2 separate regions of the Homo sapiens genome follow, and region 2 is reported to be linked to region 1. Evidence: microRNA targets listed by miRTarBase, many of them from high-throughput screens and not tested one by one. Region 1 holds a microRNA gene; the other region holds the end of a gene's coding sequence.

Region 1 (8,812 bases):
ATAACTTTATATAAAGAATTACTCTAAAGAATACCAGAAAAAAAACACGAAAACCTCGCTGTTTTAGGTATGGATTAATACTGTGTTAGTATCTTGAGCTAGATTTATATAGCACGAAACAGCATATCATTGTTTTATGGCCCCTAAAATGGGTTGCTTTACCTCAGAATTTGTGTGGGGGGTGGCAGAGAGATGAGGATGGGAGACAAGGCTCCCCCTCTCCTTAAGTGCAGGACATTTCATGTGTGTTTCTTGACTGCCTGCAGGATGGCCAGCTGATTGAGTGTCGCTGCTGCTATGGGGAATTTCCATTCGAGGAGCTGACGCAGTGCGCAGATGCTCACTTGTTCTGCAAAGAGTGTCTCATCAGATATGCCCAAGAGGCAGTCTTTGGATCTGGAAAGGTAAGAACTGTGTAATATGTCCCATGTATATAGGACACATTCCTGGAGTCTAAGGAGACCATGTTGATAGATAAGTGTAAGTGCCTCTTTGAGGGTGAGGTGGAGTTCTGCTGGTATGCTTATGTGTACATTACCTGATGTATGTGATTATGTGGGTTCTCTGAGCACAGCAGATTTCTTTTCAGGGCACAGTAGAATTCTTCCACACTCCCACGCCTAGCCGCAGAGGAGCACCTCCTTCGTTCATCATCTTATTTGTATTCAGAGGGAAGGTTACCTCAGAAAGAGAGAACCTTGCAGCCTATTGGATTAAATATATATTAAAATAACATAACTTACTTTACACAAGATCATATTTCTCTCTCCAAAGTGAGTTTCTCTGGACACCAGCATAACAAACACAGTATGGGAATTTTACATTGTTTTACACCACCGAGTTTGTGGTATTTTGTTCCAGCAGCAATAGAAAACTAACACAGTGATTAAGAAGATGACTTTTTGCCCGGGTGGCTCACGCCTGTAATCCCAGCACTTTGGGAGGCCGAGGTAGGCGGATCACCTGAGGTCAGGAGTTCAAGACCAGCCTGACCAACATGGAGAAACCCCATCTCTACTAAAAATACAAGATTAGCCAGACCTGGTGGCGCATGCCTATAATCTCAGCTACTGGGGAGGCTGAGGCAGGAGAATTGGTTGAATCTGGGAGGCAGAGGTTGTGGTGAGTTGAGATCGTGCCATTGCACTCCAGCCTGGGCAACAAGAGTGAAACTCCATCTCTAAAAAAGAAAAATAGGCCAGGCGCTGTGGCTTATGCCTGTAATCCCAGCACTTTGGGAGGCTAAGTTGGGTGGATCACAAGATTAGGAGTTCGAGACTAGCCTGGCCAACATGGTGAAACCCCATCTCTGCTAAAAATACAAAAATTAGCCAGGTGTGGTGGTGGGTGCCTGTAATCCAGCTACTCGGGAGGCTTAGTGAGCTGAGATCGCACCACTGCACTCCAGCCTTGGTGACAGGGCGAGACTCTGTCTCAGAAAAATAAATAAATAAAGTTTATGTTTTTTCAAAGAGCGTGACCTTTGGAGTCAAGCAGAATGCATTGGGCCATGCCCCCATCAGCCATACTAGCCCTGTGATCTTGAGCAATTTAAATTCCTTAAGCCACTGTTTCTTCCTCTGTAAAATGGAAATAATCATAGCATTGTTTTGAAAGCTAAATGAGGTGATGAGTTTAATGAACTTATTGTTTGACACATGGTAAATGCCTCATAAATTTTAGCTAGTTATTTTTAAAATGTCGTCTTTTTCCATTTGTTTTCTTTGGTGTTTGTCTTTCATGTGGGAAGCATTCCTCATGTCTGACACTTTTTGTTCATGTTAAAGAGCTGTTTGAAAGCTGTGTGAGTAGTGGGGCTTATAGACCAGTGAGTTTGACTCTAGGTGCATAGGAGCCAGTTAGCTTTTATATTATGAACCTGAATGGCTCTGAAGTCTCTTACCTGGGGTGATTCAGTCTGCCTCCTGCCTGGTGGGTGTGAGCCCATTTTCCAACATTCTGAAACTGAGGGGGAGGAAAGGTCTGGAGAGTTCTCTGTTCATTATGCAGACTCCATTTCAGACTCTGACTTCAGGCCACCCCTCAGCTCTGCTCTCCTCTATGAGTGGTTTCCAGTCCAGAGCCGTGTGGTCCAGCTGTTCAGGAGATCTTCCTCATTTCTCTCAGAGTCAGCCAATTCCTTCTGAAGCGGGTAGGAACTAGAGGCTCCACCCATGTCCCTGTTTTCAGTTTATTACTTTGAGTCCCTGCCCCTCCCCACCACTCAGCTCTGCTTTCCAGAGGTTCTCCAGCTTTCTAATATCTGTAGAGGGGAACAACTTCTCCCCAGCATCTCCTTTTCAGACCCTAAGCTATGGGCTTCTGTGTGTGGTCTGCTAAGCCATTTGCCCTTCCGCCACTTTCAGTCTTTGTGGATTGTGATTTGGGCTAATAGAGGTCCTTTAGTGATATCAAAGATGTACTGGATTTTTGTTTCATGGTTTCCATGATTTAAGTGTGATTTCTCAGAGATGAACAGGCAGAGAGATCCTTGCTATGTTGTCTCAGGATCTATGTTTTTAACCACTGACGCTTTTTATTTTTCTATAAATGGTATTGATTTTTTTTTCTTTGCCTTTTCGCCTTTTTCTAGTTGGAGCTCAGCTGCATGGAAGGCAGCTGCACGTGTTCGTTCCCAACCAGTGAGCTGGAGAAGGTGCTCCCCCAGACCATCCTGTATAAGTACTATGAGCGAAAAGCCGAGGAGGAGGTTGCGGCAGCCTACGCCGACGAGCTTGTCAGGTTCGTTCTCAGGCAGAGCGTGCCATCTGCCAACTCTTCCCCATTGTGAAAACTACCTGGGCACTTGCATCAGATGATGAAAATTGTGTTTATCTTCCAGGTTTTTTGACATTTCTTGCTGAGAAATAAGATTATCAATAATTTTACTTATTTATTTTTATTTTTTACGCCTCAGAACCATTGAGTAACCAGTAATTCTATTAATGGAAAAATCTGCCCCTCAAACTTCTTTTTTTTTTTTTGAGGTGGATTCTCGCTCTGTCGCCCAGGCTGGAGTACAGTGGTGCAATCTTGGCTCACTACAACCTCCGCCTCCTGAGTTCAAGCAATTCTCATGCCTCAGCCTCCTGAGTAGCCTGGATTACAGGCGTGCACCACCACATTCCAGCTTATTTTTAGTAGAGACGAGGTTTTGCCATGTTGGCCAGGCTGGTCTCCAACTCCTGACCTCAAATGATCCACCCACCTCAGCCTCCCAAAGTGCTGGGACTACAGGCGTGAGCCACCGCGCCCAGACTGTAGCTCAAACTTCTGTCTACATATCTTGGCACCCCCAAATCTTCTGGCCCGTAGATACAATCATGGTGCCCTGGGCTGGAGGGAAATCGGTATATGCAAGGAGTTCTCATTAAGGTTGGGACGTGTTTATTGAGTGGTTTATATTCAGTCAGGACCTCATGTGGTGCTTATGTTTCCTGATAAGAGCCAGCACAAAGAAGAGGTTCAATCTGTGTTTTTAAGGAAAACTAAGGAGTATAAAGGGGATGTGAATGTCCAGCTCAAAACTCCATCTTCATATGAACAGCCACATGGAGCTGGAACCAGATCAGGCTTTAATGTTTGAAGTAATGTCAGTTCTGCTGTTCTGACTCTAGGTGCCCGTCCTGTAGCTTTCCGGCTCTGTTGGACAGTGATGTGAAGAGGTTCAGCTGTCCTAATCCTCACTGCCGAAAGGTAGGGAGGCACATTTTTTTCTAGATGTATATTGAATTATGGTATTATGGGCTGCCCTCATGGCCCAAATATCTGCTGTTTACCTGACTGCTGATGTATAAGAAGGATTTGAGTGCTTTCCTTTTCATAAGCAAATGAGGACGAGTACTTTGTGAGTAACGGTTGACATGGTTACTGAGATGGCAGCCACTCTTGCCACTCCAGTTACAAAGCTCTGGATTCCTATTTTATATCATCTTCTTTAGGACAGATACTATAATGTAAAGTGGGAAGTGTTTAGTTTTTCTTCCACTGTGTCAACATTTTTCTTGCTTGCTCTCTTCACCACCTGTGCTCAAATAGCCCCTGCTACCCCTCCCTCCCCACACACACACCTTTTGCCATTTTCAAAGTCCAAACGACGCTTCTTTGATTGAGGAACTGGGCATCTTAGTGGCATCTCCATCACATCTGGTAGGTTATTTATTTGACTGTTTCTCCTCATGAGAACTGACTATATTACGTGGGAGCAGAGCTGTCTAGGTGCATTACTGTTGCAGATCTTTGTTCCCTTTAACTTGGCGCCCTGTGAACTAAGAATGTCTTAAAATCTTTCAGCTATTTAGAAGCCACTTAGAGTTTTTAGTGAATATTAGCATCCACCTAGACAAATACGCTCTAAGCCATTTTTCTAAAATTGCATGATTAGAGTTGAACACTGCAATATCTTTGCCTTGGGGAGAGTAAAGAAATTAAGGTAGAGATTAGAAAAGGAAGAATAAACTAAACTAATGGATCAAAACTTTATTTCTTTTGTTTTCAGCATTAATATTTCTGGCCATTTTATATGTTCGCACCCCAGGCTGTTGCTATAACAATTGTCACAACAGTCGCTGGCATCTTGCAGCTCTTAAGAAAGCAGAGTGCTAGCGTGTCCCTTGTGTGCTTCCAGTGGGTCAGGTGTTGGACTGCCTGGGGAGGTGATGCCTACGCTAAGATGCAGCAGATAAGGAGGAAGTAGCCAAAGGATGGAAAGGGTGGGAGTGGAGTGGAGATGGAGAAATGTTCTAGGCCCCGGGAGTGGCAGCAATGTGGACGCTTACTGGTGCTAGGAGTGTGAAGGAGGCTCATAAGCTGAGTAGGGGCAGGCCCATGCAGCACACTGTCCTGAGGTGGGGAGAGATAAAATATAAGGAAAGTCTACTTGCCTATTGAGTAGTCCAGGTGAGAAATGTACAGCACTGCACAGCCTCTTGGGTCTTCATGAGTTGCTTAGAAGGAGCTGGGAACTACATTTCCTGGTAAGGTTTCAAAGAAGGTCTGCCAGTGAAAGTGCTTATGTACAATTGGGAAGGCCAAAGAAGAGGAGAGACCATTATTCTCTGAGGACGTTTTTTGTTTTTGTTTTTGTTTTTAAGTTTTGAGGCAGGGTCTCACTCTGTTGCCCAGGCTGGAGTGCAGTGGCACGATCTCAGCTCACTGCAACCTCCGCCTCCTGGCTTCAAGCAGTTCTCCTGCCTCAGCCTCCCAAGTAGCTGGGATCACAGGTATGCGCCACCACGCCTGACTGATTTTTATATTTTTAGTAGAGATGAGGTTTCACCATGTTGGCCAGGCTGGTCCTGAACTCCTGGCCTCCAGTGATCCGCCCACCTCAGCCTTCCAAAGTGCTGGTATTACAGGTGTAAGCCACCACCCCCAGCCTGAAGACATTTAAAAGCAGCTGCATTGGTTGCCCAGTGGCTCATGCCTGTAATCCCAGCACTTTGAGAGGCTGAGGCAGGAGGATCTCTTGAGACTAGGAGTCCGAGACCAGCCTGAGCAACATAGACCCTATCTCTACAAAAAAAATTTTAAAACTCAGCTAGGCATGGTGGTGTGTGCCCATAGTCCTAGCTACTTAAGAGACTGAGGCAGGACAATCAGTTGAGCCCAGGAGATTGAGGCTGCACTGAGCCATGATTGCGCCACTGCACTCTAGCCTGGACAACAGACTAAGACTCTGTCTTTAAAAGAAAAAAATTTAAAAAATAAAAGCCTGAGGGCACACATGAGTCTGGAACAGCATCTAGTGAGTATCAACTTGGCATGTTGGTGGGAGCTTCCCAGGGGCTCTTAAGATCCCAAATAGGAACACCACATATGTTTTTGTTTGTCTATGGGAGGAATATACATGGCCTGCTGAACTTGAAGGTAGCCATGTAGCTTCTTGTGGTCAGTGAAACATGTGAGTAGTTAGATCACTTGCAGAAAAAGCCGTAAAGGCATGTGGTGTGGGGTAGTGTCAAGATGACAGAAGAGAAAGCTCCAGACCCTCTTTTTCCCATAGAGAGAACAGTTCAACAACAACGGAAGGACCATTTCTCTCTGTGAGAAATCCAGAAACCAGTTGCATCAAAGGCTGGGGAATTTGTGACGCTGGCTCTCCAGAGTTCCTCCCCCTGGCACAGCACCATGTGATTGGGAGGAAGCTCCCAACTCCTGGCATCTTTCTGGGGAGGAAAAAGAAGACTGGAACATATATCTAATATTCAGACCTTTCAGGAGGCTGCTCAAGGGACTGGTTTCTGTCTTGTCTCACAGGAAAGGGCACCAGGTTGGGGACCTCTGAGGACAAATGGGATGGTGAAACTAGCACGTACTGACTCCTCATTGCCCTCTCCCTGCTCTTCTCGGGAGGGAAGGAGTTGGAGCATGAGTCCAGCATTCTAGGTTTTCTGGAGTCTGCCCAAGACTCTCGTTCCTGTCTCACTCGATGAAGCACTGATGGGACCTGGCATGGTCTAGGTCCCTGGGGGCTGCTGAGAACAAGAGAAAGCTGGGTGGTTTGTACTGCGCCAGAGGACCCACGGTACAGTAGGCAGAGTCCAGTGCACCTCGAAGGCTGCTTTTTGGGTCCAGGGGAAGAGTAGAGCATGTGTTCAGCATTTGGGCTTCTCAAGGGGCTGCCTGAGGGACTGGCTTCTGTCTCACCCAACTCACTGCTGGCAGAACCCAACCTACTCTAGATGCCTTGGAGCTGCTGAGGCCAAAAAAGAGCTGGGCAGCTTACAGCAGCTCCAGAGGGCCTGTGATACCTCAGACAGGCACCAGAAGAAGCAAGAGCTTGCAAGCTCCTGAAAAAAGGAAAACAAAAGCCTGAGCACTTATATTAGCCTACGATTTAGCAAAATCTTCTTGCAGGAAGCCTATTTTAGAATAAAGTATGAGTATCTCATGTAATTTATTGAGTACTGTACTGAAAGTGAAAAAGAGAATGATTGTATGGGTACTTGAATTACAGTTTCTACTGAATGTGTATCACTTTCACACCACAGTAAAGTCAAAAAGTGTAAAACCATTGTAAGTTGGAGACCATCTGTATATGCACCCGACATCAGTGCACCCAAATATGTGAAGCAAATATTGACAGCCGAAGGGAAAAATAACACAAAAATAGTAGGAGATTGCAATACCTCACTTTCAATCATTGTTAGCACCACCAGGCAGAAGATTAGTAAGGAAACAGCTGACTTGAACAACACTATAGACCTAACAGACACATACAAAATATTCTAGCCAACAGGCACAGAAAACACTTTTTCTCCTCTGTTGCGCATGGAACATTTTCCAGGATGGAGAATATTAGATCATAATACAGGTCTTAACAAATTTAAGATCAAAATCATACCAAGTATCTTTTCCAGCCACAAGGCGATACACTTAGAAATCACAAACAGCAAGAAAATTCACAAAGTATGAGAACTAAACACACTGTCCGGGCATGGTGGCTCCCACCTGTCATCCTGGCACTGTGGGAGGCCGAGGCAAGTGGATCACCTGAATTCTGGAGTTCGAGACCAGCCTGGCCAACATGGCAAAACTCTGTCTCTACTAAAAATACAAAAATTTAGCTGGGTGTGGTTGCGTGCGCCTGTAATCGCAGCTACTTGGGAGGCTGAGGCAGGAGAGAATCGCTTGAACCAGGGAGGTGGAGGTTGCGGTGAGCAGAGATTGTGCCGCTGTACTCCAGCCTGGGCGACAGAGTGAGACTCTGTCACAAAAAAAAAAAAAAAAAAAAAAACCACACACACACACTGAAAAGCTTTTTTTTACTAAGATCAGGAACAAGGCAAGGATATCACTGTCACCACTTCCATGCTATATAACACTGGAAGCCCTAGCTAGAGCTATTTGGCAGGAAAAAGCAAAAGCATCTATATCCGTGCAAGTTCACAGATAACATGATCTTATACATAGAAAAATCTGCAATTTCCACAAAAAAACTTGTTAGAATTAATATATTCAGTAAAGGTGCAGGATACAAAATTAGCACATAAAAATCAGTTGCGTTCCTGTACACTAACAAACACTCCAAAAAGAGAAATTAAGAAAATCTAATTTATAATACATCAAAAAAGTTGGAATACTTAGGAACAACTTAACCAAGGAGTGGGTAAAGACTTATACACTGAAAACTATAAAAAACTGCTGAAATAATTAAAGAAGACATAAATAAATGGAAAGACATCCCTAAAATGCATATGGAACCACAAAGGATCCCAAATATCCTAGACAGTCTTAAGAAAGAAGAACAAAGCTGGAAGCCTCACACTTCCTGACTTCAAAACTTATTACAAAGCTACAGTAATTTAAACAGGCAGACATGTAGACCAATGGAACATAATACAGTGCTCAGAAATAAATCCACACATTTATGATCAGCTGATCTTCAACAAGGGTGCAAAGAACACCCACCGGGGGAAAAGGTAGTCTCTGATTAATGGTGCTCTGTAAACTGAATATCCACATGCAAAAGAATGAACTTAGACGCTGATACCATATCTCATATCATAACACAAAAATCAACTCTTTAAATGGATTAAAGACTTAAGTGTAAGACCTGAAACTATAAAAACTAGAAGAAAACGTAGGTGGAAAGCTTCATGACATCAGTCTTGGCAATGATTTCCTGGGTATAATACCAAAAACAAGGTGACAAAAGCAAAAAACAGGCAAGTGACTACTAAGATGCTTTCAGCAAAGGAAACCATCAACAGAGTGAAAAGGCAGCCGGTGGAAAGGAATTGAAATCCTTTGGGAAAGGATCTCAGCATGTTCCTGTGTTCATTGCAGCATTATTCACAGTAGCCACAAG
Region 2 (7,000 bases), not on the chromosome of region 1:
CCAAAATGTCAGATAAACCTCCTGCTGACACCAACCAGATGCTGTCGCTCTCCAAAAAAGCTCTGGCAGGGACTTGTCAGAGGCCATTGCTACCTGAAAGACCTCTTGAGAGAACTGACTCCAGGCCCCAGCCTTTAGATAAGGTCAGAGACCTCGCTGGGTCAGGGACCAAATCCCAATCCTTGGTTTCCAGCCAGAGGCCACTGGACAGGCCACCAGCAGTGGCAGGACCAAGACCCCAGCTAAGCGACAAACCCTCTCCAGTGACCAGCCCAAGCTCCTCACCCTCAGTCAGGTCCCAACCACTGGAAAGACCTCTGGGGACGGCTGACCCAAGGCTGGATAAATCCATAGGTGCTGCCAGCCCAAGGCCCCAGTCACTGGAGAAAACCTCAGTTCCCACTGGCCTGAGACTTCCGCCGCCAGACAGACTGCTCATTACTAGCAGTCCCAAACCCCAGACTTCAGACAGGCCTACTGACAAACCCCATGCCTCTTTGTCCCAGAGACTCCCACCTCCTGAGAAAGTACTATCAGCTGTGGTCCAGACCCTTGTAGCTAAAGAAAAAGCACTGAGGCCTGTGGACCAGAATACTCAGTCAAAAAATAGAGCTGCTTTGGTGATGGATCTCATAGACCTAACTCCTCGCCAGAAGGAGCGGGCAGCTTCACCTCATCAGGTCACACCACAGGCTGATGAGAAGATGCCAGTGTTGGAGTCAAGTTCATGGCCTGCCAGCAAAGGTCTGGGGCATATGCCGAGAGCTGTTGAGAAAGGCTGTGTGTCAGATCCTCTTCAGACATCTGGGAAAGCAGCAGCCCCTTCAGAGGACCCCTGGCAAGCTGTTAAATCACTCACCCAGGCCAGACTTCTTTCTCAGCCTCCTGCCAAGGCCTTTTTATATGAGCCAACAACTCAGGCCTCAGGAAGAGCTTCTGCAGGGGCTGAGCAGACCCCAGGGCCTCTTAGCCAATCCCCGGGCCTGGTGAAGCAGGCGAAGCAGATGGTCGGAGGCCAGCAACTACCTGCACTTGCCGCCAAGAGTGGGCAATCTTTTAGGTCTCTCGGGAAGGCCCCAGCCTCCCTCCCCACTGAAGAAAAGAAGTTGGTAACCACAGAGCAAAGTCCCTGGGCCCTGGGAAAAGCCTCATCACGGGCAGGGCTCTGGCCCATAGTGGCTGGACAGACACTGGCACAGTCTTGCTGGTCTGCTGGGAGCACACAGACATTGGCACAGACTTGCTGGTCTCTTGGAAGAGGGCAAGACCCCAAACCAGAGCAAAATACACTTCCAGCTCTTAACCAGGCTCCTTCCAGTCACAAGTGTGCAGAATCAGAACAGAAGTAGTACCAATCAATGTCACATGAACAAACAAGCTGCCCCCAGGGTACCATTTGGGGAGGGGAAATCTTTTCTTTCTTTCCCCCTTAAAAAAAAACACATCTGCCCCGAACACTTTCCCACTGTTATTCTTTCCTCATATCCCAACACTCAGAACTCTTGTGACATTAGCCAGTGGGGGCTTATGGTTGTGTGAACCATGTATGAAAATCCAGTGGGCCCCAACCAAGGAGACAGACAGACTTGGGTCTCTTTCCCCCAACTTTTCCACATGGTCATCGTGAAATAAAAAGTCCACTCTGGAGTCAAGTATGGAATTCAATTCCGCTGGTCAGGTTGGAAGGTATAGGGGCTCTCAAAGCGATTTCCCCAACCAGACAGAGCCCCATTGAGGGCACCTAGGAACCCTTGGGAGGAAATGGTGTTCTTTCAAATCAGTGGCGATTTCCTGAGCATTCACGTGTTCTAGGCCGGGTGCTAGTCACTGATGAGAGATACAGGCCTCATCCCTGTGAGCCTGGATTCCAAGGCTTTCAGGAACCTTTGACCAGGAAGTAACAGGAAGTTCTGAGGGGCCCTGGGGCTTTAGACTCATTTTGAAATGTCCTTTGTGGCACCAGAAGTGGTTGTGTTGAGGAAGTGTCTCTTGGCTGCGGTGTGCATGGGTGCGTGTGCATGCGCGCACACTCACAGAGGTCTCCTCTATAGATGCAAGGGTGCTGCATTGAGGCCAGCAAGGCTGTTGGCTGTGGGGTCGCCGCTGCTGCTTTTGTCTGGGCTGTGCAGAGTCTCAAGATCAGTCCTTGGAGGAGCAGGTGGTCAGGGGCAGTCGGGCTCTGTGCGAATGTAGATTTCCAGCAGTGGAAGAAGGCATTTGGCAAGCTTCTCTTTCTTTGCTTTTGTTTCTACCTATTTTTCTCTTTGTACATGAATCCACCCCATCCCTATTTCCCTAAAACACTCAGGTGCTTTCAGATTTCAGAGCCTCGGGCAGTGGACATAGGGAATCTCTGGCAAGCTCTGAGCTAGACACACCAGCTTCAGGAAGAGTACCAGATCCTGATGGGAAATTTCTTTTCCCCATTCCTTTTCCCTCCTGAGTGGAGGGAGTCCTCTTCTTCGCCTCCCTGAGAATTGCTGTGCTCTGTATTGAGAGCACCTGCCTGCTGACTTAGCTCAAAGGCAAGCCAGAACCCTTCCCTGAAGACTGGCAAGAGGTGGTGTTTAGAGCAACGTCCAGGCTAAGAGATGACTCCTATTAACTGCTGATTATCTGTTACTGCTGCCCTGAGCTGGGGCCCAAGGGCTGGGAAATCTGTTGGTGCTACCCTGCCCTACCATTCACCCAGCTCACAGACTGCCAACAGGAAGTGCTGTTTGGCTAGTTTCCTCCCACTTGTCTACCCCTCCTTTGTCCTTAGACCAACATGTTTACCTCTCTGCTTTGCCAACTTAGCCAGCAGGCCATCCCCGGCCCTAACGTCTCCTGGCCATTATCTCTTAGTTATGGCTTTCACGCTCTCAATAGGATTCTGTATTTGGTCCCAATTTCCTCAAGTTCTTATTGAGGTTACTCCCATCAATTCCACGGAGGGAACAGTAGTTATTATAGAAGCATTTGCGCTTTATCTAAAGATTAAAAATAGAATCTGCTTTTATTTCCCAAAGTCTGTCTCTGAGGTTGAGACACTTGAACTCAGGCAGAGGGACGAGGCTGGGCAGGGCTGTCCTGAGTTTAGGGGCCTATCCCTGCATTTCACTGAGACCTCGGAATCTCCTCTGTGAATTCCACCTGCCTAGTTCTCCCCTTTCATCCTCTCTCTCTTCCCACATCATCAAAGAGGAAAAGCTCTTTGTTCAAAAGGAAGAGAAAACGTAAAGCATCTTATTTTCTTTTAAAAGAATTTTAAACCATGAAAAAGATATTTTTAAAGAAATTCACCGAGAACATTAAAGTTCATTATATTAAGTATTTATCATGTGTGAGAATAATAAATATATAACTGCAGCTAGTAGGTCCCTTTCCCTAATCTTTTAGGTCATATGAGTAGGGTTTGCTTGGTGCCAGTCCTGTGCCCTTTTCTCTCCAGTCATCTGTAGTTGTGATCAGAAAAAGGTATCTGCACTGCACTGTCAGAGTCTCCTTTCACTATGTTGTGTGTTAAATTACCGTAGCTCTTTGTTTCATGAAATAAACTGTGAATTTGGGGGGGGCGGGGGGAGGGCGTGCAGGCCATGTAAAAATTTTCCGTGGAGAAGTTTGATTCTAAAGTAGCTTCTCTAAAGTAGGCTTTGGTAGGTAATCAACTTGACAGCAGTCTAGATGTCTCACAGGACAGGAGGGAGTGAGGGAAAGGGGCCATGATTGGCTGCTTTGTGGTTTTATTTTGGTTCTTTCCATTCTCCGCCATTCATTGGAGGCTTCGTTCCAGACCTGCCTGGGAAAACAGCTTCTGAGCCATTTTGGGGAGCAGTTCTTCATCTGAATGGATGGACATCTGGGCTTCCTTCAAGGGCCATTGAATGGGAACTAGAAAACCACTGGAAACTAGAAATTTGAGCTATTGGGCCCACCAGTAGCAGCATGTGATACTAGATGGTTAAAATCATGAAAGCAGTCACTATCCAATTAGAAGCAGAGTCACAACAACTGTTGGGAAATGTGACTCTTGGAGGAAGGTGGGGAGGGAGTGGCCTTGCCAGCCCTGTGGGACGTCCCCTGAAGTTTGTAATAAGACCCCTTTTCCAAAGGGATGTGAATTGGAGTGAAAAGGAAATCTTTCATCTTAGAAAACTTCTGGTCCTTAACGCAGGGTGGTATTTGGGTATGTGCTTGGAAATTGAGATCTCAAGAGTGTTTGCCTTGGAGCCAGCTCCCCAGGAGGCCTTTTCCAGGGACAAGGCAAAAGTTGAAATTCTCCATGGGTAGCTAGAAAGCCAATACATCTAGCCCTGCTAAGTCAGAAAAAGATTATGAAAAATGTTGAAATTTACATTCAAAGCCTCATTTGCTTATCTTGCTGGAGCCAACCCAGTCTAATAGCAAAATAGCTGTCATTGATACAGAAACATCCTCATTTTTAAATGTCTGCTTTACCCTGTTACTGAGTTTGAGATGACTTAAATCACTGTGTTGACCCTCTTCTGAACCAAATCTTTAGCATTGATGAAAATAGTTATTTTATTCTTTACATCCTTCACCCCACACTATGGTCAGGGCATGAAACACCCTGTTGATCCCTTCCCAGGCTCGGCACTGTCTGCTCACTGGAGCCGGACTCCCAGGTTGTAATTCTAATGTTGCCTCATGAGAACAGAATGGCAGAAAGTTTAGTCCTGACAGATTCCCCCATAGGGAGTAATGAGGACAGCATGAAACTTGGATAGGTTTTACCCTTAGTCCCTATAAGGTGGATTTTACTAAGGTTTTTTAAATGATACTGTCATCCTCTTGGGGTTTATCAGCCAGGTTAGAGGAGCCCAGTGTCCTAACCTCTCTCAGATCATGGCAGAGAAGGAGCTGCCTCCAGCCCCTTTCTTGCTGAGTTTCATTTGAGCAGTTCCATGTGTAGACATTCCAAGTCACTGCTTGGTAGTTGCTGTGGGAGCCTGTCATTGGCTATGGCCAGTTAGTTCTCAGCTGAGCTTCCTAGGGCCAGTGCAACAGGGCCAGAGGCTGCTATAGTGTAAATTGAAATAAGAATAGATCATTGTTTTGTACACACACACAATAAAATGTAATGATGGTGCTAATTTCACGGTATAAATAAGCACTGCCAAGGGTTGAGGGACTGGCAGCTCAAGAAACCCGGGTTCCTGTTTGGGAGGAGATTTTATGTAGAAAAGTTTGAGGCTTTGTTAAAAGTGGGGAGAAGGAAGATCCTCAGTGAAGCCTGCACCCAACCCTGGAGTGGCCCAGTGCAATCCAGAGGTGGAAGAGATCCTATATCCAGGTGAAGGTGGCCATTGAGTTTCTCAGGGCTGGGGCCACCTTGTCCATAGCCTCCGTCCACGCTGCCTGGAGCAGGTTGTTAGAGAGCTCTGGTTGTTGGGTCTTCCTCAGCTCCCTTCTGCCCCTCTCTACCTCTTCCACTCATGGAAGCCCCTCTACTGCTTATGAAGATTAAGGGTAGTATTTTCTAAGGAAGTGGAAAGAATTAAACTAGAAATCCACAACCTCGGAAGAAGTGTTTCGAGTTTAACATGCGCTGTTTCTGCTTATGTGGTTCCTTCTCTAGAGCTGCTTTCCCATGGCTTTCAAAACATCAGGTTATTGTGGGGCTTCAGGTGTAAGGTCCTGGAAGTTCAGCAAAGTTTCGTGGACAAGACATGGGCACAGAGAGTAGAAGCAGAAATAAATGGTTCTATGTTTTCAACTTCCAGGGTTGGGGCAGGCCAGAGCAAGGCGGTCTCATCGAGGTGGGTGCTACCTGTGTGTGTGTAGATGAGTGTGCTGAAGGTGGGGAGGGCAGCACACAGCAGCTCATGGCAGAGCCGCCTCCTAGGTCTTGGCAAAGAGGCAAGCTGACGATAGACATCTACCTATATTGTTAAGAAAGGGGTCGGGGGGATCAGCCAAGGTCCATCATTGCTTTTTTGCCGCGCCCCCCCCCCCCCGCCCCCATAGATTGTCAGCTGTAAGTGAAACTCCTAGTGAAAAAGAGGGGAGCCCTGTGTTAGGAGTCCCCATAAACATGTACTGTAATTCTTTGTATATAGAAAAAAAATTTACTGTAAAGTAAAGTTTAACTTTACTCATATATGGCCCTTGCCCTGTGTTTTGTTTTATTGGCTGTGGGGAGTTGTAGTCTAACAGGAGGGAGGATTGTTTGGGGTGAGAGCAGAAGCCAGCCCCAGAGATAGTACGAGGTGGGGGGCGGGGGGCGCAGGGATACTGTGAAGCTAAGCCCTTCCTCCAAGCACGTCATGGGAATAGTGTGTTTCCTCTCAGCAGCCACAGGGCTGCCCAAGCCTCTTTCTCCCTCTGTTGGGAGTGGCTGGTTTCAGTTTCAGTCTCCCTCCACAGGAAGCCCCCATCACTCATGAAGGAAGGGCAGTTTGAGGAATTGGTTTTTAAAAAGGAAGTGGAACCAAAGCACTCTCTGAGTGTGAGTCTGACCATGTTGGCTAAGTTGTACATTTTTCCAAGGCAGGTGTTGGCCACTGCAGAGGACTCAGCCCAGGCCTAAATAAAGGCAGGAAAGCAGAGGCAAAGGATAAAACTAAGGGAAAGCCCCTGGCCTGGGGCCACACCCTCCATACCAGAAAGGGCTGCAATAAATTTCCTTCTGGTTGAGCAGCAAGTGTCAGCCCTGTTTACAGTTAACACCTGATTCCTCAGAAATATCTGGATCTTCTTTGGGGAAAACTTGGGAGTTTGCTTCCCTTTGTGACCTAGTCCTGAACTTCCTGCCCTTTCAGCAAAAAGTGCTTGGGAAGATTGGGAAAAACATTTAGTACTAGAGTTACTCTTCACTTTCTTCACAATCCTTGGGCTGCATAGTAGTCACCTTATTTTACAGATGAGAAACTCAAGATGAGGATTTAAGTCCCTTTTCTAAATTAGCAGCTGAATTGGAACCAAATCTGGATCCATTAGACCTTTCTGGCTTACAGAACTTAGGACTTTCCTACCATTAAACCACATTGTAGGATGT

Evidence for each region. The annotated mature microRNA hsa-miR-6874-3p reads CAGUUCUGCUGUUCUGACUCUAG and lies in region 1 at 3,595-3,617, shown strand. An mRNA with a match to its seed (bases 2 to 7 or 8) in the 3' UTR can be bound and repressed. Matches are read on the target gene's strand: a 7mer-m8 pairs with bases 2 to 8, a 7mer-A1 pairs with bases 2 to 7 and ends in A, and an 8mer does both.
Region 2: the mRNA of NSD1 is a reported target of hsa-miR-6874-3p. Seed matches in the 3' UTR shown: 7mer-m8 at 1,495-1,501.

What each region holds. Positions count from the first base shown.
Region 1 is chr7:5,706,645-5,715,456 of GRCh38, reverse strand. MIR6874 (microRNA 6874) reads left to right here and starts at 3,547; the gene lies at 3,547-3,617. RNF216 (ring finger protein 216) reads left to right here. Exons shown (of 17, transcript NM_207111.4): 11 at 267-404; 12 at 2,594-2,742; 13 at 3,618-3,696. RefSeq lists an enhancer at 6,751-6,820.
Region 2 is chr5:177,294,111-177,301,110 of GRCh38, forward strand. It overlaps NSD1 (nuclear receptor binding SET domain protein 1), which reads left to right. Exons shown (of 23, transcript NM_022455.5): 23 at 1-6,103. The coding sequence ends at 1,349. Among named protein-coding and RNA genes, the nearest start is that of RAB24, 6.1 kb to the right of the region's middle. RefSeq lists enhancers at 1,590-2,091, 2,092-2,591, 6,260-6,369 and a silencer at 6,277-6,470.